3 separate regions of the Homo sapiens genome follow, and regions 1 and 2 are each linked to region 3. Evidence: fine-mapped expression QTL. A gene starts in region 3. Each other region holds a variant in brackets. All regions are shown on one strand. Distances are between the middles of the regions.

Region 1 (8,180 bases), 420 kb after region 3:
GGACTTTCATTCTCAAAAGCAATCCATATGTGCCTTTTGAGAGCCTGGCAGTTATATTCATATGGCATATTTAGATCTTAGCCAAGAATCAGACATAGCTCTCCTTCCCTGTTGCTTTTCTCCATCATCCTTCCACCTGCCACCCATTTGCTCCATGACTCCTGCCTTTCTCATTTCCTTTCTTGCATGCAAACTAAAAACAAAAACAAAAAGTCATGTGATTTCTTTGTCCTACTTTTCTCTCCTCTGGTCTGTCTTGTCTCTCTCTGTCTTTTCTGTCTGTCCTTTTCATGTCTCAATCTCTACAGAACCTCCACCAGCTAAAACAGATTCAAACCTTGAAGCAGATGAACGAGCAACTGCAGGCTGAGAACAGGGCCCTGACCCGAGTGGTGGCCAGACTCTCGGAGTCCATCGAGTCCTCGGACACCCAGGAGCTCTAGTTCTTGCCCCTACTCTCCAACTCACTTCCCTCCTCCACTACTCCAGGCAGGTTCAGTCTTCTTGTTAGTCCCAGAAGCTCTGTGCTCATCCCCTCCATCCGAGCCTCCATATGCAGGTTCCTGCAAAGCTTGGTTATCTGCAGATGGAAGCAGCCAGGACTGAGATCATAGAATGGGACATACCAGCCTAGGTCAAGGGAGGCAGTGAGAGAGACCTCAGCTGGGCTACCAATATATTCATTTGGTAAGGTCACCACATTAGCTTCTCTTCCCCTGGAGACTGAGTATGAATTTGTTCACTCAGCTACACATAGGTATACACGTGTATGTGCATATACCTGTGTACATGCACATATACATATTTCATTGACGGGGTCATTGCCAGATGGAAATTGATCTTTCTTAGCCAATAGCAACCCAAGTCCAACCCACTCCCCTGGAGCAACTGGGGTTGGGCCTTGGGTAACCAAGGGCAGGGGCTCTCAATCTTGGCTGCAAGAAACATCTAGGAGCTTTTAACGTATACCTATGGGTATATTTTAAACATATACATAGCTTTTAACATATACATATAGGGATGTCTGGGTCCATCCCCAAATAATCAGTGGTCTGGGTTGAGACCCAGGCATCAGTATTTTTTCAAACCTCTCCTATTGATTCCTTATACAACCATGGTTAAGAACCACAGCCCTTTGGATACCAGACAGTCCTCACGGCTGACAACATTACCGATGGAGAGGACTAAAACTCAAGGTTGGAACTGTTCCTGTCCAGCTCCACTACCAGCAAAAACACTCTGCATCCCATTATTCAAGCATAATTGGATAAGCATTCTTTGCCTCCTTCTGCAGTAGTCTTTGCTTTCTTCTCCCACCTTAGGAGGCATATCTCTCATTCCCGTCACAAATCTTTGGGCCCTAGGGATGTGCCCCTCCCTGTCCTTAGTGTGTGGGCTGTGAGGCAGAACACAGCCTATATAAATGAGACCCTCATGGAGCCAGGCCCTCTCTAATGAGGCCAGCTTTGCAAAGGATATGGCAGGCAGTGGAGCAGAGAGCAAGGATTTATTTTCAACTGAGAACCAAAAATGTGCTTGGCAAACTGGATCCTTTCCCTAGCTATGGATCTGAAAGACAAGCTCACAGACAACTGGTTTTTCTATCTCAAGATGGTATGATGGGGTCACCACTCCTCTGAGATGAATTTTTAATTGTCAGCAACAATCTAATTAGTCCTGACCAGAGCCTGTTCTTTCTTTCAGCCTATTTGCTTTTGCCTTCAGGGTTAGTAGCTGGCAACTAATATCCACTAGAACTGAATCACCCGAATTATCATAGGGCTGAGCTAATATCCTGCTGTAGATGCTATCATAGGCAGAAAGAAAATTGAAAGGCAAGTTCTACCATGGCCTGGCTGTAAGCAGCCACTGTTAGGTCCAGACTCCATGCTTTAAAGTTAGCCTCAAGATTCCTGGAAATTTTTACTTAGGCTAAACTAGGGACCCCCCAAAAGGTGTCCCAGTTATTTTTAGTATCCCTTTGTTGCAAGATAGTATAGGATATGGGGCAAAACTAGATCTCATGCTTTCAGTAGTTAATAACCTTAACAGTTGTCATTTATTTAAGGCCTGTGCTGAATGCTTTATATAGTTTTTCTCATTTATTCCCCAAAACAATTATTGTAAAAATGAAAAAAAAAAAACTGAGTCACAGATTAAATAACTTGCCCAAGGTCACTCCGAGAGTAAGTGGTAGAACCAAAATTCAAACCAAATATGTCAGGTTCCAGAGTGCAAACTTTTCACCACTGTAATATAAGCTGTCTGCATATTTGGCACAGTTTTCACCATTTGTTAAGCATGTGGCCCAAACAATGCAAGAAGGATCTATTGAGCAACTACACTGTGCCCCCAGCATTGCAGCTGAGGGAGGAAGGGCAGCATTCTGCTTTCTGAGCACTGTGACTTCCTTGTCAAAGCCTAACTTCTAAAGAGCCATTTACCTACCAAAAGATTTTGCTGCTGTAAAGAAAGCCATTGCCTGGTACATGACCATAGCAAGGGTTAGCAAACTGTGACCCACCACCAGTATGGCCCATAAGCCATACAAATAGTCAAAAAAGAAATCAAAAGAAGAATAATATTTTACGACATATGAACACGAACATTATATGGAATTTAAATTTCAATGTCCAAAATAAAAGTTTTATTGGAACTGAACCAAACTCATTTGTTTACATATTATTGTTATGTCTATGGGTGCTTTTGTGCTACAACAGCAGAGCTGAGGAGTAGCAACAGAGACTGTTTGACCTGCAAACCCTAAGATACTTATTGTCTGGCATTTTACAGAAAAAGCTTGCCGATTCTTGCCAGAAGGAAGGATGAGATAACTAAGCCAAACTGGCAGTGCAGTCGAGAGATTTTACTCTACCTTTTTTTTTTTTTAATAGTTCCCTGGAAAAATCATCTTATCTCAGCATGTAGAGCAAACCACTTACCAACAAAATACCAGAGGGGACTCCCTTCCCACTTTCCTTGTAGTTAAAAGCAAGACAGCTCATGCAAGACTCATCCTGAGTCCCTCTCAACCTACAGCTAGCCTTGCTCTAGGTCTCTGAAGCTTTAGGACCCCTGTAGCCCCTTCCTCTTTAACACATTCCTCAAAGACTGTAAGAAGTAACAGTTGAGAAATGTGTACTTAATTTTATTTGCCCAGGGTATCTTTAACACCAAATTGTGGTAAGCTGGGAACTTAAAAATTAAGAAACTAAGATCCAGAGAGTTAAAATGATAAAGCTTTGCTAAACTTCATACTTATATCGTACTTTCACATAT[G/T]TTCTTATTTAACCATTCTTTAACTTCAAGTGGATATCAGATAACACTGTTCATTTCCCCCTCTCTCTGCTGAGATTGAACTTTGTGGGGCTTCCCCCGCCCCTTGATTTCTACATTCCACCTCTTAACACTTTTTGCCACTCCCTTTAGATGTCAATTGTAGCATGTTGCAGCTGCAAAACTGCCTTGTCCAAATTTTTTTTTCAAGGAATTGACTTCTTAATGTGGAAATAAATCACTAAAACTCTACAAGACTCTACAAGTTGTTTATACATTTTTTAAGGCAGCTTAGTTCTGATTTGATGAGCTGCTAAGCAGTGAAATGTAATCCATTGCCATATATAGCTTCTTCCTACCTATTATGGAAATGTGGCTTTCGTCTCACTTATACCCAAGCTGCAGCCCCAGCATGGGGCGTTAAAGAGCAGATTGAACACGGAAACATGAGGCCACCCTGGGTTTTTTCTAAAAATCTCATTGAAATGAGTTTCCAAGCATTCAGTCTGGTAGGCAAGGCTACAGGGATAGAGGAACGAAGGAGAGGGCAGCCAGAGCTGCTTTGATTAAATCAGAGGTAGGAGACCAGGGTCAAAGGACTGCAACTTTATTTTTATATTTTCTGGATTAAGTCTTCTTAATAAAGTTTGCAGATTATTTGCCTGCCCTCCCACAGTCATGAGAAAACTCACAGTGATTGTAGGAACACTCAGTATCGCAAAGCTCATTATGTATGTCAACACACTTCCACATCTGTTACCTCCTGTGAGCCTTGCAGAGTCCCTACCATACGAGAGAGTAGGACAGGGACTGTTGTTCTTACGAAAGTACAAAAATGGAAATGCAGAGAAGGCGAGTGATCTGCCTAAAGTAATAGATCACTAGTGACAAAGACAATGCTGGAATTTCAGTTTCTAGGCGTCAAACATTTTTGGTGTTTTGTTTTCCATCCCACGTGTAATAAAAGAATGATCTTTGGAGTCAGGCACACTGGGATTCAATATTAGCTTTGCTGGGTGCCTTGAACTAGTTATGGCACTTTTCATTTCCCCATTTGTAGAAATCGGGATAACAACTGTATCATAGTCTCATGAGGCACTAGGGAGACCCTCTAGCACAGTGCCATCCACATTATAGATATTCAGTAATTTTCTTTTTATTTCCCTGATACAAATTATTTATGTATCTGTGATTCATATTTGTGTACATACACATATATTTATATAATTTAACCTATATCTTCTCTGAGAGATCAAGGAAACAGATTATATTCCTTAAGGCACAGTTAGATCTCCTAAGTGGTTAATAGCAGAGCCAGAGCTAGAACTAAATAGGCCTCATAACACCTCAGCACAGGTCACCCTTTACTGGGGGCATTACCTGCCCCTGGGGTCCTATAGGTTGAAATGACTAGTCAAAGGACACCTGTATTGAACAGATACAGATGTAGCTTTCTGTAGCCTGCATAGTGGCGATGTACTTACCTGCTATCCTAAATCGCTCTTGCTGCCAGTGGGACCCACACATAAACTGTACCCTTATCAACATCCCATTAGGATTTTTCAGATGCACAGCGTACTTGTTGAAAGTGCCTGATCATGTAACAAAGACTTGAACTTCCAGGATGGAACTTGAGGCTATTTTTCCTTTTTTTCACAAGTTAGACAACAGTATGTGTAATGTTCCAGGATAGCAGAACTAATAAAATTGAGTTTCCACTCCCTCCCCTGCCCAACAAGCATCTATTTCTGTGAATTACAATGCCATCCCCTAAAACTGCTGATGAGGCCTCTGGGTATCCTTTGGTGACTGTCAGTGGGGAGCTTTGGGGAGGATTAAATACATGCCTAGTGTTCACTGTGCCTCACAGCTCTGTGAGTGTAAGTTTTCTGAGTTTTAATTGTTGAAAGTGGATATGTATAGTATGACCAGTGAGAATTTGGAGGATTATTCACCGAAGGCACCAAGTGGAGGATGCTTAAATCATCTTGTGCATATGGCAAGAAAGCCGAGTACTGCCTCTCTGGCCTTTGCTCTTGTTTTTGATGAGATGTGAAGCAGTATCCTCCTTTAACTCTTCTAGTTGACCACCACCCCCTTTCTGAATTCTTTCCCTATGTCCTCACCAGCCCATTTTGGCTCTCTCCCCAATTTCTTTAGGGGTGAGTTTAAGGGCAGGAGAAATTGAAAGTGGTTACTGATTCAGTAGAATGAAAGGATATACAGTGTGAAATGTGAGGTCTGCCTATGAAGAAATAAGATATTACTGCTAAATATGCCAGCTCAAAAGATGGAGTGGCTATAATCTCCCTAAAGATTAACATTACCAACTCAATAAAAAGGAAGATTGAAGGGAATTTCATCCCTGGGAGAAGGGACCATGAGAGTTTATTCCACACATTGTCTCAAAAGGCCCTGCTCACCAGGCTGGCCTGGCCTGGTCAGGGAGGGCCAAGGAGGATCCTGCCAGGCTCTAACTCACCTTTCCCTCTGTCACCCTACAGGTGTTAACAGAACTGAAATCCGACAACCAGAGGCTGAAAGATGAAAATGGTGCCCTCATCAGAGTCATCAGCAAACTGTCCAAGTAGGCTAGGCTCCAGATTTATGAGGAAAGAAAGGGACAGCATTTGCTGCCCCCACCCCTCTTTTCCAGTCCTTGCCTTCCAACCAAAAGAAATGGATGTTTTGGTGGAAGGACACTTCTTTCTATCACCCTCTTCAGTCACCTCTATACACTCTACATTTTCTCTGCACTTTCAATGCCCTGTTCTTCCAAACCCCTATCCCAAGTTTTATGACAGTTTTAATTGAAGCATGATTGTGGTAATTCGAGCCATCTGGAGAATGCTCTGGGGAGTACACCAGGCTCAGCTGTGGACCCCTCAACTTCCTGCTGCTCAGCTACTTTGTCCACATTGGATTTGGTCCAAACATGTAAGACTTCTACCCTAATCAGTATCCTTCAGCTTTTTACATTAACCCAGTGTCCTCTGATATAGGTGAGTCTTGTGGTAGCCACTCCAGGATCCTGATTGGGGTGCCAAGAGAAACAGCAGGATGTTGAATTGATCATCAGATGCCCTCTGGAATGGTTAGCATCCAAGGTGACAGTGACTGCATTGAGGCGCTCTATTCTTCTTCACCTCTCAGGAACTGACTTTTATTTTTTCTGTCAACACCCAGTAATCTCCCTAACTAGTTTTAACCCTTATTCCTCCCTCATACCTAGCCATTTCTCCAAGGCGCAAATGGCCCTGGCTTCATTTATTCCTTTCCTTTCTATCCTTTTATATTTTTCCCTTCCCCACCCCCTCACTCAATGGTATAAAAGCTAGGACAGAGCACCTGACCTCAGTTGTCTTTGGCCATTGTGGGAAGTCATTATTCTGGAGACAAGAAAATCATCACTCTGGTGCCTTGGTGGCAGCACCACTGCCTGCTCCCTGGAAGGTAGACTATGGCATAAGTGTCAGCTCATTGTTTTCGTCTCCCACTTATCTTCCCCCTTCAAAGTGATTTTCTTTATAAGAAAATTTGGGCTCTGAATACTCCATTCTGCCTCACTTCCTTGACCTTGTTTTCCTCTCTTCGCCCTGACACCTGCTTCTAATGAGAAATGAAGTCAGTGCAAGGAGGAATGAGAGGTGGGGAGGGGAGATTGTTGAGAGATGGACTAGGAAGTGGAAGCAGGCTGGAAAGACACATATGGCGAAAGTCAAGTATCTGAGGCCACTTGCAACATTGTGACAAAGAAGATGGAAGATAGCAGCCTACTGGGCTGTGAGAATAGTGGTGAATTTGATTATTTCCAGTGGTTAGATTTAGCAGAGAGATTTACTTTCTTAGAAATTAATAGGGGAAATGGCACTTAATAGAGGTTTAATGGAATGAAGTACTTTCAACCCATTGATGAGAGTCATGGAAGTTTAGAGTGGCAAGACCCAGAGGTCATTAGGTCCAGCTTTCTATTATTGTGTCACAGGGACCCCTGCTACCACAGCTTTCACCCATGGGCATGGTCAGGTAGCCTCTGGTGGCTATGCATTTATTACTCAAAAGTTGGGCAACTCTAATAACGAGAGAGTTTTTCCTCATATCAGCTGAAGTCTGCCTGTGGATTCTCCTTGTAGTCCAGATCTACTATCTGCAACTCTTTAACGGCACTTGAGATATGTGCAGTGGGTGGTCTCCCCCTCAGTCTTACTTTGAGCTGCTGTTACTCTAGTCCTTTAAGTCATTCCTCATATGGCATGCTTTTCTTACCTGTCACATCTTGGCCATCCTCCTCTAGACAAAACCAGCCTTTAAAATATCATGTCCAGGCCTGGAAAGAATACAAATCCAGTGCAAAATTAAACCATTAGTTCTTGATGATAACCTAGCATTAATACTTACAGTATTTTCTTTTTGTAGGAGTTTTATCCCTTGGTTCACTTGAGTGTGCAAGTCATTAAATCCTCATCATTTTAGGGTTGCCAGTGATATTCAGTGTTTAGAGTGGTTCATTCCCTTAATATATACTACCTCTGTCTGTTAATTCTTTCCTAACATGACATGTAGCTCTCCATGGTCCTCCCTCTGAAACACCACATGCTGTTTAAACTAGAAGCTGTAATTCAAGATCCCAATTCCACCAGGTGCAGTGGCTCATGCCTGTAATCCCAGCACTTCAGGAGGCCGAGGTGGACAGATCACGAGGTCAGGAGTTCGAGACCATCCTGGCTAACACGGTGAAACCCAATCTCTACTAAAAATACAAAAAATTAGCCAGGCGTGGTGGCAGGCGCCTGTAGTCCCAGCTACTCAGGAGGCTGAGGCAGGAGAATGGCGTGAACCCGGGAGGCGGAGCTTGCAGTGAGCCTTGATCACGCCACTGCACTCCAGCCTGGGTGACAGAGCAA
Region 2 (8,180 bases), 210 kb after region 3:
ACTGCAAGCTCCGCCTCCTGGGTTCACGCCATTCTCCTGTTTCAGCCTCCCGAGTAGCTGGGACTACAGGCGCCCGCCACCATGCTCGGCTAAGTTTTTGTATTTTTAGTAGAGACGGGGTTTCACTGTGTTAGCCAGGATGATCTCGATCTCCTGACCTCGTGATGGGCCCGCCTCGGCCTCCCAAAGTGCTGGGATTACAGGCGTGAGCCACGGCGCCCGGCCTCATTTTAAAATTTTTTGTAGAGATGTGGTCTCACTGTGTTGCCCAGGCAGGTCTTGAACTCCTGGGCTCAAGCAGTCCTTCCACCTCAGCCTCCCAAAGTGCTGGGATTGCAGGCATGAGCTACCGCACCCAGCCAGCAAAATTTTTTAAAACAAAAAACAATTAGTACAAATACCACCCTAACATATTAATTGGTTTTTTTTCCTTTGTTCTTCCTCAGGCTGTCTTAGCTTTTGCAAATATTTTAACATAGTTGAACTCATGGTATGTTAAAATTACCATAAGTACTGTGGCCAGCTTTAGTGGCTCATGCTTGTAATTCCAGCACCTTGGGATGCCAAGGCGAGAGGATCACTTGAGGCCAGGAGTTTGAGACCAGCCTGGGCATTTTTAGAGACAGGGAAATCCTAAGTCTAAAAAAAAAAGCCAATTGTGGTCGCCTGCAGTTGTGGCTACTCAGGAGGCTGAGGCAGGAAGATTGCTTGTGCCAGGGTGGTTGAGCCAAGATTACACCACTGCATTCCAGACTAGGCAACAGAGTGAGACAGTCTCTAAAAAAGAAAAAAAAAAAGTAATTTTTACTGAGTGCTGCTTTATACCAAGTGTTGCTATGCATTTTGCTTTTTAAAAATTATCTTTACATCAACAGCTCTACCAAATAGGTGGTTTATTCCACTTAATGATGAGGAAGAAGAATCAAAGAAGGTAATTTGTCCTAACCTAGGGATCACACGTCATGCTGGTATTTAAATTCACATCTGTCTGACTCAGAAGCTTTTAGTCTTCTACCTAGGTTGTGCTGGTTTTCTGAAATCCTGGCTCACCTCTCCATTTAGACCTCTTTATTTTTTTAAAAGCCTCTTAGCACCTGTAATGACAGCACTTTGGGAGGCTGAGGTGGGCGGATTGCTTGATCTTAGCCTGGGCAACATAGCAAAACCCCATCTCTACAAAAATACAAAAATTAGCTGGGCATGGTGGCATACCTCTGTAGTCCCAGCTACTCAGGAGGCTAAGGCGGGAGGATTACCTGAGCCTGGGAGTTTCGGGCTGCAATGAACTATGATTGCACCGCTGCACTCCAGCCTGGGTGACCGAGCAAGACCCTGTCCCTCCACTCCCGCCCCCCCACAAAAAAACCTCTTAGAGACATAGTTTTATAGAGATAGGATTCTTTTAGCATTCCATTACTACTGAGATTTTTATATTATCAGAATTCTGCACCTACTCAGTGTGAAGTAATAGCTAAAGCATTGTTTTCCTACCTCCTTCATGTCATGGTATACACAGAAGACGACATTTGTGTAAGACCCCTGGTAAACTAGAGAATATTTGCAAATTTGGTATAAAAATTCATTGTTGCTGGGTGTGGTGGCTCATGCCTGTAATCCCAGCACTTTGGGAGGCTGAGGCGGGCAGATCACTTGAGGTCAGGAGTCCGAGACCAGCTTGGCCAACATGGCGAAGCTCCGTCTCTACTAAAAATACAAAAATTAGCCAAGCATGGTGGCACATGCCTGTAATCCCAGCTACTCGGGAGGCTGAGGCAGGAGAATTGCTTGAACTGGGAGGCGGAGGTTGCAGTGAGCCAAGAACGCACCACTGCACTCCAGCCTGGGAGACAGAGCGAGACTCCATCTCAAAAAAAAAAAAAAAAAAAAAAAATCAGTTGTGTTTTCTTAATACAGTAATGATAACAAAATACATTAAAAATCAGACATTGAGCAACAGAATAAAAATGTATGAATATTAAATAAATAGACTAAGAAACTACAAAATTATGTTTTATTTAGGAACACCTAATAATACCAGATGTATTAATAATGATGATGTTGATTATAATGCTTTTGATGACAAACATACATTTAGAAATTGTGGTGCTATTAGAGCAAATTAAATAGAAAACTTCATTTACATATGGGTGCAAAACGTAGAACCTCACTGATTGTTAAACAATGTAGACTAAAATAAAAATATAGACTAAAATGATTCAACAGGAAGATCAAGAGAAGGGGCTATTTCATGGAGTCACTGTACTGTGCCATGTGCATAGTTTTATGTACCAAAACTATGGTACTTAAGTGGTTCCATATAGTGAAGTCATGTGCATAGTTTTCTGTACCAAAATTATAATTAGGAAGTTTATGTAGAGAACTATATGAATTAAATATAACTTTACCCATCCTGAATTTTTAGTTGGTTGCAAAACATTTTTAATACAATACAAAATTTTATTCAGAAGATCTTTACATTACACTACTTATAAGCCATTTTAGAACAATAAATGATTGGGAAGATCTGATATAAAGCCTTTTAGCTCTAACGTATTGATAGTAAGCATTCAGTAAATATTGAGTATTGTTATGTTTAGTTAGTAAAGCAAAGTGGTTAAGATTATGAGCTTTGGAATCAGACATAGTTGGTTTCTAATCCTGGTTTTGCTACTTACATAAGCTTTATGTAAGCTGTCTGTGCACAGTGCCTTATTCTTAGTAGGCATTTAGGTGATTTTCTTTTAGACTAAGATGAGGATAAAAATCTTTAGTGAGTCTTACCGTGACCTACCAGACACTGTATCATCTGATCCCCCATTAGCTCTCAGTACTTGTCTTTCCCTTGTTCAACCCATTCCAGTCACATTAGTGTCCTCCTTGTTTCTCAAAAACTCCAGTTGCTAGGAATAGATGCTTAAGGGCCTCACATCTGTTTTTCCTTCTGCCTGGAATGCTATTCCATCAGCTACACACATGGCTTGCAAATGTCACCTTTGTAGTGAAGCACTTCCAGGCCATGATATCTAAAAATTTCAGATGAACTTTCCTCACCTTCTCATTTTTTTAAATTGAGGTAAATTTTACATATAGTAAAATGCATAGAACTTAAATCTACAGTTTGATGGGTTTTGACAACGTATACAACCATGTAACCAATATGGTTTGGATATCTGTCCCCCGCAAATCTCATGTTGAGATGTAATCTGCAATGTTGGAGGTGGGACCTGGTGGGAAGTGTGTGGGTCATACGGGAGGGTCCCTCATGGTTTGGTGCTGTTCTCAAGATAGTGAGTGCAGTCTCAGGAGATCTG[T/G]TTTTTTTTTGTTTTTTTGTTTTTAGAGACGGAGTTTTGCTCTTGTTGCCCAAGCTGGAGTGCAGTGGTGTGATCTCAGCTCACTGCAACCTCCGCCTCCCAGGTTCAAGCGATTCTCCTGCCTCAGTTTCCCGAGTAGCTGGGATTATAGGCGCCTGCCACCACACCCGGCTAATTTTTTGTATTTTTAGTAGAAACAGGGTTTCACCATGTTGGCCAGGCTGATGTTGAACTCCTGACCTCAGGTGATCTGCCTCCCTCGGCCTCCCAAAGTGCTGGGATTACAGGTGTGAGCCACTGCGCCCGGCCAAGATCTGGTCATTTAAAAGTGTCTGGCACTGCCCCCCGCAACCTTGCTCCCATTCTCGCCCTGTGATGTGCTTGCTCCGCTTCGCCCTCCACTGTGAGTAAAAGCTCCCTGAGGCCTCCCCAGGAGCCAAGCAGATGTCAGTGCCATGCTTGTGCAGCCTGCAGAATTGTGAAACAATTAAATCTCTTTTTTTAATAAACTAGTCAGCCTCAGGTATTTCTTTATAGCAACACAAGAATAGCCTAATATGGTAACCATCACCCAAATCAAGAAATAGGACATTTTTGCCTCCTTTGAAAGTTCTACCCACCACCCCTTCATCCTCCCCCAGGCTACCACTGTTATAATTTCTATCATTCTAGAATTAGTGTTGGCTGTATTTTTCTTTTTTTTTTTCAAGAAATATTAACTATTCTTTATTTGATATATATAAGCCATATAAAATGCCTTTTAATAAGTTAAAAGAACCATTTTATTTTGAGATGGGGTCTTACTGTGTCACACAGGATGGGTTGCAATGGCAGGATCATGGCTCACTGCAACCTTGACTCCTGGGCCCAAGCCATCCTTCCACCTCAGCCTCCTGAGTAGCTACGACTACAGGAATGCACCACCATGCCTGGCTATTTTTAATTTTTGTACAGATGAGGTCTCTCTATGTGGTCCAACTTGTGGCCTCAAGCAATCCTCCCACTTCAGCCCCAAAAAAGTATTGTGATTACAGGCATGAGCCACTATGCCCAGCCAAGGAACCATTTTAGACACAGAGAATTCTAATTAAATTGACATAGTTAAGACCAGAAATATAAAGTAGACATTGTTACCTTATCTTTAGTCTTTGCCTTTAAGAGGCACGTGAACGCAGAACACAGGTGGGTCTTGCTTGGTTCTGAGACAGTGAAGACATTTCCCCAGTATTTAAATATATTCATATAGCTAGTTATATAAATCTAAATATAAAGCCAATCTCTAATAGGTTTTAAGATGGCATTCACCATCTTTGTGAAAAGTTGAACACTACGAATTAAGTCCAATCATAGTTTTAGAAGGGGGAAACAGTGATACCATTTACTGAATCAGAATTACTGTTAAAATTTTAAAAAACCCAAATGTATTCATTTAACCACAAGCGAGTCTTAATTAAATCAGGACTGCTCAACAAAAATATTCTGTGAGTTATTCATGATTTGAATTCTGATGTATATTAGAGAGCTATTAAATTATGTACACATAAAAAAGTCATGTGGTCAATTATTACTGATTATTAGCTTTTCTGAGATAAGCTATCAAGTCTGCCCTTTCTGCCTTCTTCTTAGTGCTGACAATGGTCATTTTTGTTCCAGGGATGTACTTCTTGGGATTCTGCAAATACTCCATCAGTGTCTCCTCTCCTCAGGTGATGCCTTTGTTCTCATTGGCGTCTGTGAGAGAATTCAGTGGCCTGACCTGTCTTCTGCATAAATAGACCATGGAGATTTGGCTCACTCTTGTACTTGCCTCGCTTTACCATGGTGTGGCATTGGGCACACTTTTTTTTTTTTTAAGACAAGTTCTGGCTCCATCATCCAGGCTGGAGTGCAGTGGCACGATCTTGGCTCACTGCAACCTCTGCCTCCTGGGCTCAAGCCATCCTCCCACCTCAGCCACCCGAGTAGCTGGGGCTACAGGCATGCACCACCATACCCGGCTAATTTTTGTATTTTTTATCAAGATGGGGTTTCACCATGTTGTCCAGGCTAGTCATGAACTGCTGGGCCCAAGTAATCTGCCCACCTCACCTCCCAAAGTACTGGGACTACAGGCGTAAACTACCATGCCCGGCCTTGGGCACACTTCTGAACAAAACTCTTCTTGCCTTTCTCAACATCACCCATATTTAATTCTGTCTCTCATCACTGGTACTACGAACTTCCTGTTCAGAAGCCGGACATCCCACTCTTTCAGTTTTAGCTGTTTTAAAAGGAATATAGAATATGTACCTTTTAAAGTTTGGTTTCTTCAACTGAACATAATGTTTTTGAGATTTATTCATTTTTCACGTATCCATAGTTTATTGTTTTTTATGGCTGAGTAGTATTCCATTGTGTGAGTATTCCAAAATTAGTTTATTCTTCTGATTATTGACATTTGAGTTATTTCCTTTTTTTTGCTATTATGAATAAAGATGATAAAGATGCTGTGAGTAGTCTACAAATCTTTTTGTAGACATATTGTTTTTATTTCTCTTGGGTAAATACCTGAGAATGAAATTGCTGGGTTATAGAGTATATAATTTTTTTTTTTTGAGATGGAGTCTTACTCTGTCACTAGGCTGGAGTGCAGTGGCACGATCTCAGCTCACTGCAACCTCCGCCTCCCGGGTTCAAGCGATTCTCCTGCCTCAGCCTCCCTAGTAGCTGGGATTACAGGCGCCTGCCACCACACCCAACTAATTTTTTGTACTTTTAGTAGAGGCAAGGTTTCACTATGTTGGCCAGGCTGGTCTCGAACTACTGACCTCAGGTGATCCACCTGCCTCAGCCTCCTAAAGTGCTGGGATTACAGGCATCAGCCATCGTGCCCGGCTGAGAATGTAAAATCTTAGCTTTATTAGCAACTTGCTGTTTTCTGATGTGGTTGTACCATTTTATACTACCCCTAGCAATGAATTAGAATTCTGTTTGCTCCACATCTTTGTTGATATCTGATATTGTCATTTTTTTTGAACACGAGTTCCATTTGCTCCACATCTTTTTTTTTTTTTTTTTTTTTTGAGATAGAGTCTCTCTCTGTCTCACTCTGCCACTCAGGCTGGAGTGCATTGGCTTGATCACGGCTCACTGCAGCCTCAATCTTCCAGGCTCATGCCTTTCTGCCACCTCAGCCTTCCAAATAGCTGGGACTACAGGTGTGCACCACCACACCCAGCTATTTTTTTTTTTTTTTTTTTTGTAGAGACAGAGTCCTGCTATGTTGCTCAGGCTGGTCTCAAACTCCTGGGCTCAAGCGATCCTCCTACTTTAGCCTCCCAAAGTGCTGGGATTACAGGCGTGAGCCACTGTGCCCAGCCTACATCTTTGTTGATATTTAATATTGTCAGTGCATTTTTTTCCTTTTCTTTTTAATATTAGCCATTGTTTGTATAGTGTTATTTCATTTTGGTTTTAATTTACACTTCTGCAATGACTAGTGATGTTCAGCACCTTTTCGCATATTTATTCATTATTTGGAGTGTGTGTGTGTGTGTGTGTCTGATTTCAGTCTTTTGTACATTAAATTTGCTTTTTGTTTTTTATTATTGATTTGTAGGCATTCTTGATGTTTTCTGGATATAAGTCCTTGGTCAGATAAATATATTATAGATATTTTACCCTGGTCTATGCCTTGTTTCTTTACGTTCTTGTTTTGTTTTGAATAAACTTTTTATTTAGAAGTGATTTAAGATTTACAAAAAAGTTGCAAAGATAGTTTAGAGAGAGAGTATTTGTATACCCTTCACCCAGCTTTCCTGAATGTTAACATTTTACATAAACATGGTGCGTTATTCAAAAGAAGTTTTTTTGTTGTTATGTTGATATTCTGGATGCCATTTCCTTCATTATAGTTTCTTTTTTTTTTTTTTTTTTTTTTGGAGACGGAGTATCGCTCTGTTGCCCTCTGCACTCTGCTGGAGTGCAGCGGCATGATCTCAGCTCACTGCAACCTCTGCCTCCCAGGTTCAAGTGATTCTCCTGCCTCAGCCTCCCGAGTAGCTGGGATTACAGGCACGTGCCACCACATCTGGCTAATTTTTGTATTTTTGTAGAGACTGGATTTCACCATGTTGGCCAGGCTGGTCTTGAACTCCTGACCTCAGGTGATCTACCCACCTCGGCCTCCCAAAGTGTTGGGATTATAGGCGTGAGCCACTGCGCCCAGCCCCTTCATTATATTTTCCAATCAGTTTTTCTTATATTATAAAAGTAATTTTTGGCCGGTTCCAGTGGCTCTTATCTGTAATCTTAGCACTTTGGGAAGCTGAAGTGGGTGGATTGCTTGAATCCAGGAGTTCAAGACCAGCCTGGGCAACAAAGCAAGACCCCATCTCTAGAAAAAATACAAAAATTAGCCAGGTATGGTGGTGCGTGCGGATAGTTCCAGCTACTCAGGAGTCCGAGGAGGGAAGATGGCTTGAGCCTGTGAGGCAGAGGCTGCAGTGAGCTGAGATCAACACTAAACTTCAGCCTGGGTGACAGAGTGAGACCCTGTCTCAAAAAAAAAAAATAAATAAAGCAATTTTGCCTGGACAAGGTGGCTCACACCTGTAATCTCAGCACTTTGGGAGGCTGGGCAACATAGAGAAACCCCATCTCTACAAAAAAACAAACAAAAAAATAGCTGGGCATGGTGGCATATGCCTGTGGTCCCAGCTACTTGGGAGGCTGAGGTAGGAGGACCACTTGGGCCTGGGAATTCAGGTCTATAGTGAACTGTGATTGTGCTGCTGCACTTCAGCCTGGGCAACAGAGTGAGACTCTGTCTCAAAATAAAAAAAAATAAAAAAGTAAAAAATAAAAGAAAAAAGAAAAGCAGTTTTTAAA
Region 3 (8,180 bases):
TGGTCATCACAGTACCAACTTCATGGGATTGTTGTGAGAAATGAGTGAATATAAAGGATTGAGGCTGGACGCGGTGGCTTACGCCTGTAATCCCAGCACTTTGGGAGGCCGAGGTGGGCGGATCACCTGAGGTCGGGAGTTCGAGACCAGCCTGACCAACATGGAGAAACCCCACCTCTGCTAAAAATACAAAATTAGCCACGCATGGAGGCGCATGCCTGTAATCCCAGCTACTCGGGAGGCTGAGGCAGGAGAATCGCTTGAACCCGGGAGGCGGAGGTTGCAGTGAGCCCAGATTGCGCCATTGCACTCCAGCCTGGGTGACGAGAGTGAAAACTCCGTCTTAAAAAAAAAAAAAAGGATTGAGAACAGGGCCTGGCCCAGGGTACATATCTGCAAACATTATTATTGCTGCTGTTGTGATTCTTGCTCCTTCTTCCCCCTTTCTCTGCTGAGAGAAGATGTGCCAAGCAAGGTTGATCTTCCCTGGCTGAAACTGTGTACTTTGTCCTCTGAAGTTCTCTAGCCCCAGGGACTGTACCCGACTCCCTTCATCCCAGCAGCAGTTCTTACTTGGCAAGATGGTCTTGTATCGGTCCTTGGAGGCGTGGCCAGGGATGTCCAGGTCTTCGGGGCTGACAAAGTTTGAAGGGATCTTCTGGCAGGGGGAGGAAATGGGTGAGCAGCTGACTCCTAGCCTCCTTTTCTCTCCTTCTACCTTTTTCTAGAACAGCTGGACTCTGGCCATTCCTTCTTGACAATAGTATGTAGGCCTAGATGGGGTGGGGGCAGAAGGGGAAGCCTGGGGGCAGCCCCTCCCTCAGCCCTGAAGTTCTCTTTCCTAAGGGGCCCAAAGGGGAGACTTGCCCAGGGTGCCCGTGAGAGAATGGTTCCAGCTGGCTGCCTCTGATACAGAGGGCAGAGCGATTCAGAGGGGACCCCAATTTCTTACCAAGAATTCTTCTTCCAGTTGCTTGGGGCTGGGTGGCTGGCGCTGAAGGGCCCAGCGGGTAAGGGGGTGTCCAGCAGTGCGCAGAAAGTGTAGGGTGACCTCCCGGGGTGTGTTCACAGAGCAGATGGGTTCTACGGCCCCCAGGGACCGAACGTCCAGCATCAGAGCCACATTGGAGCCCCGCCTGCAGGCATAGCCCACCACTGCCTAGTGAGCACCCAATCATATTTGCTTTTCTTTTCTTTTTATCTTTTCTTTTAGAGATAGGGTCTCTCTCTGTTGCCCAGGTCTGGAGTGTGATGGCACTATTATGGCTCACAGCAGCCTCAAACTCCTGGGCTGAAGCAATCCTCCCACCTCAGCCTCCAGAGTAACTGGGACCACAGGTACATGCTACCACACCTGGCTAATTTAAGTTTTTTTTTTTTTTGGAGAGACAGTGTCTTGTTCTGTTGCTCAGGCTGGTTTTGAACTCCTGGGCTCAAGTGATCCTTCTGCCTTGGCTTCCCAAAGTGCTGGGATTATAGGCATGAGCCACTGTGCCTGACCATATTTGCTTTTCTTACAAGTATTACTGTTATAAGGCACCTCTGAGGGGGCCGCTCTTTATCTTTCCTTTAACCTGGTAGCCCAGTAAATTTAGGGTTTGGGCCCCTGCTGTGTGCCCTCTTTTTTTTTTTTTTTTTGAGAGAGAGGAGGTCTCACTATATTGCCTAGGCCGGTCTCTAATTCCTGGACTCAGGAGATCCTCTCACCTCAGCCTCCCAAAGTGCTGGGATTTTGGGCATGAGCTACCATGCCTGGCTCAGCCCTCTCCCTTTGTCAGCCAGAACAGGGCAGCCTTGAACTCAACTGCTCCTTCCAGCTGCCTGCCTCTTCCCACTCCCAGCCAGGCCCTGTGGCTCCGACATGCATCCAGCACCAAGAAGGCTGTGGGCCTTGCCTGGAATTTAGGGAGCAGGCTCATGGTTGATATGAAACTCTGTGCTCCAGACATGCAAAAGACATGCAAATGAGCACTACTGGTTTCCTTTCCAAATTGGAGTCAACAACTGAGGGCCCTCTGGACCCTGCTGTCAGAGCTGGAGGGGCAGATGGAAGGAAGGGAGGAGCGGAATGGGGGCTCAGGGCTCGGAAGACCCCTCCCCCAGGGAAGATCTCACCTCTCCTGCAGTCGCACATGCTTCTTGGCTGGCGTTTTTTCAGGCGGAGGCTGGGTCATGGCTGCCCCCAAAGACAAGGTCAACGGCTGTGCTCTGGAGCGCCCCCCATGGGCTTGGACCATGCTGAGGTGGGGTGCTGGGCCCAGGGGAGGCTCACTCAGCCATGAGGTCTGCCTGAAAGACAGGGCCCTCCGCTGCTGTTCTCTGGCCTGCCTGATTGGCCAGAAGGAGGCTCCCATGCCAGGCCAGGTTTGCACTCTGTTTTCACTGGGGCGTCTTCTGTTCCCCAAGAGGTGGCCTCATTTTCACTAAGGGAAGGACAGGATCTATTTGGTGGGACCCAGGGCAGAAGGCAGTCTCGGGGTAGAGTAACGGCAAGATAAAGGGTAGAGATTGTGGATGAAGATAGGAAAGAATCCAGAAGGAGGAAAAGAGAGAGGGGAGAGAGGCCACACACCAGAGTACACAGGGCTCTGAGCAGGTCCAAGTGGGAGAAGGCAAGGGAGGAAACAGAAAATATGTGTTCTCTAGGACGGAAGGGAGAAAGCACGCAGAAGCCATCTCTGAGCTAACCAGTGGGCCTTCCCCTGAACAGAGAATGGAGGCCTCCAGCAGTGTTGGAGCTGGTTGGGCAGCCAGGCAGGCGGGCTCCTGGACCCCAGCAGGGTCCTCTCCTAACTGCTGCTGTTCCACTCCCAGGTCTGTTTCTGGCTTCTGGGGTCTCTGTCCAGGGAGGTAGGCTGGAGGTGTTTCCTTCCTCCTCCTGCCCATCCCCCCGTCTCCCGCCTCTGTAACCGTCACAGGAAATGGCCTCACCAAGCCCTTGAACGACAGCGCATGGTGAGGCGACAGCTGGGGGCAAGACAGGAGGCATGGAGGTGGTGGGACCATCTCCTCTTGGGGGCAGTCCCTATCTCCCAGAGCCAGGGTCACAGTGGGCGAGGTGGCGGGGGTGTTGAATCACCAAGGCAGCAGGGACGGAGGTGAGGGGACAGAATGGGCCTGGCACAGGTGTGAGTGGTAGAGCGAGGGTCTCTGGTAGCAGAAAAGGTCCCTTCAGCCTCTGCTCTCCTTGTAGCTCCCTGTGGCTTCCCTGCTCACCCCCGTCTTGGGGACATCAGGTCTGTGAGCACCCATACCCCAGCCAGGCACTGTGGCGCCCCACTCGCCCTCCCGCACTCCCTCCTAGAGATGCCCTCTTATATCCCCGGAGTTCGCACCCCCCGGGGCCACAGGACTCCCAGTCCCCCCTTCAGATACTTACTGAAGCAGCTGTGGCCCCCAGGCTGCCTCTTGCCAGCTGTCTGTCTGTCTGTCGGTCTGTCTTTGAGGGCTGAGAAGGCTCCAGGAAGCCAGCTTCCTCCCTCCGCCCCTCCTTGCTGCCACCCACGCACACCCCAGCTGCATTCTGCCCTCCTGTGCCTGCTGCCGCTGCCACCAGGGGTCGGCTGCCTCCCGCCTGTGCCCTTCTGGGGCCCAAGGCCCCGTTCCCTGGGAATGGGTGAGGGGCCAGGCCTTCCCGACCATCCTGCTTTCCCCAGCTTCCAGACCCTCTCCCCTCTTCTGTGTTTCTCCTCTGGGTCTTTGTCACATCCAGCCGCTGCCTACTTGCTGGGCACAGCTCGCCTGACCCCCAGCTCTGTGCTGTCCCACAAAGAACCCAAGGCTCTCCTGCTCAACCTGACCTTGGCCGGAGGCTTATTTCTCCTTCTCTGCTTCTGCCCCACAGCCCTCTCCCTCAAGGCCCTCTCCCTCAAGGCCCTCTCCCTCAAAGCCCTTGCTGCTTCAAGCCTTGGGAATTCATGGCCAAGCACAGACCACATCTTCCCAGAGCAGATGTGGCACAGACTCGGGGTGGGGAAAAAGAAGAAGCAAGAATCCATGCCTCACAATGTGAAGGAAAGGGCCGGGGCCAGGCCAAAAAGGTCGTCTCCACGCCTGTGCCACGGCCCAGCTCTCCACAGCCCACGGCCTGAGTGTAGGCCAGCCCAGCAGGAAGCAGATAGCAGAGTCCACTTGTGGGAGGGAGTCCGAGGGGCTTCCCCTGGGCCCTCAGCCCCCTGCAGGCCTCCTCCCAGAACCCTGACATCTACTTAGAAGACTTACAGACAGTGGACAGTCTCTGGCCCTCACACCAGGGGACTCCCATGTCCTCTTCGCTGCTGGGGTGCCTGGATGCCTGGGACCTGAAGGGTGGCCCCCAAGTCCAAGACTCCTCTGCCCACTGCCCCTGCCTGACCTTGGCAGGCTCCTTGCGGGCCAGCAGCCCAGCCGGTTCATGCTCGCTGCACGCCTCCTTTTACCTTGTAACATTTCAAACGCCCTTCCCTTCCCGGCCCCCAACATGCACAATCCACGTCCTCTTTCTTCCTCCCACTTCCCTGATTCAGCTGTCAAATGGTGACAGCAAAAAAGAAATGAGGTACCCTAGGCACAGGGGGTAGGCATGCCGGAGGGGGTGGTCGGGAGGGGGCTGGCCTTCTGCTGGCCCCTTGAGGAGGAGGGTTGAGACGAAGAACAAGAACAGCCCCCAGAGGCTCAGAAGGCCTCCCAGCACCCGCCCTTGCTCTTGGCAGTGGGGACAGGGGCTGGCTCTTTTTTGAGCCCCTCCATGGCCAGCTGATCCTGGCACCTCCTTCCCTGCAGCCTGCGTTCCTCTCCGGAGTGGGTGGGTTTCCCTGAGGAGGAGGCCGATTAGGGCTGGGAAAGGGGTTGGTTCCCGTGCTCAGGACAGACTGGAGGGAAGCAGGAACCTGGGAATCCCTAACATGCTTGCGAGCAGTGACCTGGAGACTGGCCTCTGCCTCACCCCCCACACCAGTCAGTGTTTCCACTGGTGGGTAGTGGGGGCCCTGGGGACACAGGAGGGGGCAGGTGGGGGTTGGAAAGAGGGCCCGGCTCTGAGCCTATGCTGATTGTTATCAAGAACAGGAAGCTAGGACACCACAGGGGTGGGAGGAGGAAGCGGCAAAGCCCTCCCCACACAGGTCTGCCTGGTCCCCCCAAGTTTCCAGGGTCTGAGCCCTGTTGGCTGTGAGCCCACCCCTTTCCCCCACAGACTGAGGCCTAGCAGTGGCTGGACAGTTGGAAGCTGAGCTTCACAGCAAGGAAGCTGGGAGCCAGGCGATGGGGAAGATAGTTGGGGTTGGGGGTGGGGGTAGTGGCTGAGCATTAGGCAAGACCTCTCAAAGATCCCCTGTTCCCTCTGGGTGGATGTGGGGTAGAGGGGACAGTCACTCCTTGGCTCCTGCCCACTCCTTCTTCCCCTGTGCTTAGGGATACCTGGACATCCATGGAGGTGTGTGGCCAGAGCTCATGAGGGCTGAGGATGCCAACTGCAACCTCAGATGGCACAAGACATGCGTCATCGCCCTGCACCTCCCCCTCCCCAGCCTGGCCTGGTGACTTGGGACGCCCCTCTCTGCCCTCTCTGGAGTGGACTCTGTCCCATCCGGGCTGTTGGAAGGCTCCTGGGCGTGACTCCCTCTCCCCTCCAGAACCTTCCCACCCCTGGGGCCAAAAGGTCACAGCAGCTCTCAAACTTCCATCACTCGAATCGATTTGTGTTCCTGGGTTGAGATTTAGGTTCTAGCCACCCTCGACTCCAGAGAAAGTATAGTAATAGTTGGAAATCAGAAAGATCTATGCATAATGAGTCTAAACGTAGCTTATTAACTGTGTGACCTTGGGCAAATTGCTGAGTCTCAGGCTCCTCCTCAGCTTCCTCCCTCCACTGGGGGATGATCATAGCACCTCCCTTGTCAGCCCATGGTGTGCTTTGCTCACGGAGGAGAGGTTGGGAGTCAGCAGCCAGAGGACCGAGGAGCTGGGAGGAGCTGGCTGGGGAAGTGGGTCTGGGAGCAGCACAGGGTGAGGAGGTCATGGCTGCCGGGTCTCACCTCTCACCAGCCTCCCTCTTCCTCCTCACTGCTGACTTTCTCCCTGAACCCGGGCTGCCGGGGCACTTCCAGCCGAGCACTGAGGAAGTGCAGGAAGGAGTCACTCCCAGGGGTCTCCCAGCATCCCGGGTGGGACAGAGTCCACTCCAGGGAGGACAAAGAGGGGTGTCCCAAGCCACCAGGCCAGGCTGGGGAGGGACTGGTGCAGGGCATGATGCATCTTGAGAGTCAGCCTTGTCCCATCTGAGGCTGTGGTGGGTGCCCTCAGCCCTCCCAAGCTCTGGCCACACACGTCTTGACTCTCTTGTTTTCCCCTCTAGTGATTCCCAGTTCCAGGGCTGTGAGCCGCAGCTCCCTGCCCCAAGTGTCAGAAGCGCCCCCCTCCCTAGCCCAGGCCCGGGGAAAGGCGGACATTACATCTGGAATTCCCAGAAGTCGTTGCTCTTTGCCAGCCCCTAGGGAGTAGGGAGCTCCTTGCTGGGGAGCAGTTGGCCCCCAGAGGCAAAGGCTGCCACCTTTTAACAATCCAAGGGGAGGATCCTGGGGAGAGAGTCAGCTGCCTGGGGCCAGGACTGCTGGGTCCTGCACACTCCAGCTGCTCTGCCCCCTTCCTAGCTGCCCTCCTCGGCTCCTCTCTGGAGAAGCACTAGGATCTCGGGTGGCTGTTCCTCCATCCTTCCCACCCCCAAAACCCTAGGCCAGCCTGAGCTGGCTTGTTCTGCCCCAACTTTGTAGGCCCTGGCTTGTTCCTGTTTGTGTCGGGGAGACAGAAACACCAAGAACTGGATCTGGGAAGCCTCATCCCACAGGAAGCAGGGAGACAGCAGGGGAGACAGGGTGAGTGGGGCAGGGAAGTGCTGTTAAGGGCATGGGATAAGTCCAGGCTGACCAGAGTGACAACTGCACCCCTGTCTCAAAGCTTCAACCCTGTGCCGGGCCAGCTAGGGACCTCCTGCTACCTTTTGGATGAAGGGGAACATCCCATACCCTTTACCCCTGGCTGAGAGGACCAGTAATCCAGCCCTGCTTGGCACTGGGATGCCAGGGCCAGCCTGCCAGGAGGTCCAGGAAAGTGCCTGGTTCTTTGCCCGATGCTGGAACTCAGGACCCTGGCAGGAAGGTTTTAGGATAGAAGAGTCCCTCCCTCTCTCCCAAGCCCAGAGCCAGCCAAATGGACATCTATTCTACAATGTGGCCTTTTCTTCCCAGGGGCTCCCGTCTCCCTCCCGCTCTGTGTTGTCCCCGGACACCCACTCATACATCCATCCAGACAGGTGTGTACACCCTCATGGCCCACGTTTGCACAAATGCACATGCACAGTGTCAATCCACACATGACCAGCCCCTCCCCTGCTCTCCCATGGCCTGGTCAGGGGGACCTAGGCCTTCCCCCACTCCCTGGCCACCTTCCCCATAGTATAGGCAGCAGGGGGAGTGGGCGACTTGGCTGTCCTGAGCCACCCTGCCCCTCTGCTGCCCGGTGATTATCTTCCTCCAGTGTGGGGGCTGCCCAAGGCCAGGCTTCAGGCTGTGGGAGAGCAGGGAGGGGCCGGAAGAGCGCTGCCTGGGACAGCTGTAGGCCAGGCCAGTTCACATTTGGAAGCCAGCACTCCCAGACCTGCCCCTTGCTCTCTCCTCTGCCTCCTGGCTGGCTCTCTCCAGAAGGAATCAGTAAGGTGCCCTGAGACCTCAGGGTAGCGGGGGGGAACCCCAGGGGTTCTCTAGGGAGAGGATGTGGGTTTGTCTGTGGGGGTGGTTGCTGGGGAGGAGATACAGCCCTCGTGGTACCTTTTCTTTTGCTGAATGGAGACGTTTGGGCTGGGGAGGCTGCTGCTTATTTATTTTATTTTTTTTGAAACGGAGTCTCACTCTGTCACCAGGCTGGAGTGCAGTGGTGCCATCTCAGCTCACTGCAACCTCTAACTCCCTGGTTCTAGTGATTCTCCTGCCTCAGCCTCCCGAGTAGCTGGGATTACAGGCATGTGCCGCCACACCCAGCGAATTTTTTGTATTTTTAGTAGAGACGAGGTTTCACCATTTTGGCCAGGATGGTCTTGATCTCCTGACCTGGTGATCCGCCCACCTTGGCCTCCCAAAGTCCTGAGATTACAGGCATGAGCCACCATGCCCAGCTTATTTATCAGAACCTCTAGGGGCCCTGTCTCC

Evidence for each region.
Region 1: its variant is fine-mapped to the expression of PTPN7 in whole blood (INTERVAL, PIP 0.97).
Region 2: its variant is fine-mapped to the expression of PTPN7 in whole blood (TOPMed, PIP above 0.99).

What each region holds. Positions count from the first base shown.
Region 1 is chr1:202,574,694-202,582,873 of GRCh38, forward strand. PPP1R12B (protein phosphatase 1 regulatory subunit 12B) reads left to right here. Exons shown (of 24, transcript NM_002481.4): 24 at 5,781-8,180. The coding sequence ends at 5,867. Among named protein-coding and RNA genes, the nearest start is that of SYT2, 130 kb to the right of the region's middle. The variant G/T (reference allele first, on the strand shown) is at 3,280.
Region 2 is chr1:202,364,651-202,372,830 of GRCh38, forward strand. The region is part of intron 1 of PPP1R12B (protein phosphatase 1 regulatory subunit 12B); the gene reads left to right. It also overlaps the pseudogene CYCSP4. Among named protein-coding and RNA genes, the nearest start is that of PPP1R12B, 20 kb to the left of the region's middle. RefSeq lists an enhancer at 1-407. The variant T/G (reference allele first, on the strand shown) is at 3,312.
Region 3 is chr1:202,157,166-202,165,345 of GRCh38, forward strand. PTPN7 (protein tyrosine phosphatase non-receptor type 7) reads right to left here and starts at 3,437. Exons shown (of 10, transcript NM_002832.4): 1 at 3,380-3,437; 2 at 2,116-2,289; 3 at 953-1,136; 4 at 574-658. The coding sequence starts at 2,237. RefSeq lists enhancers at 2,058-2,197, 2,298-2,387, 2,648-2,727, 6,258-6,926, 7,506-8,006.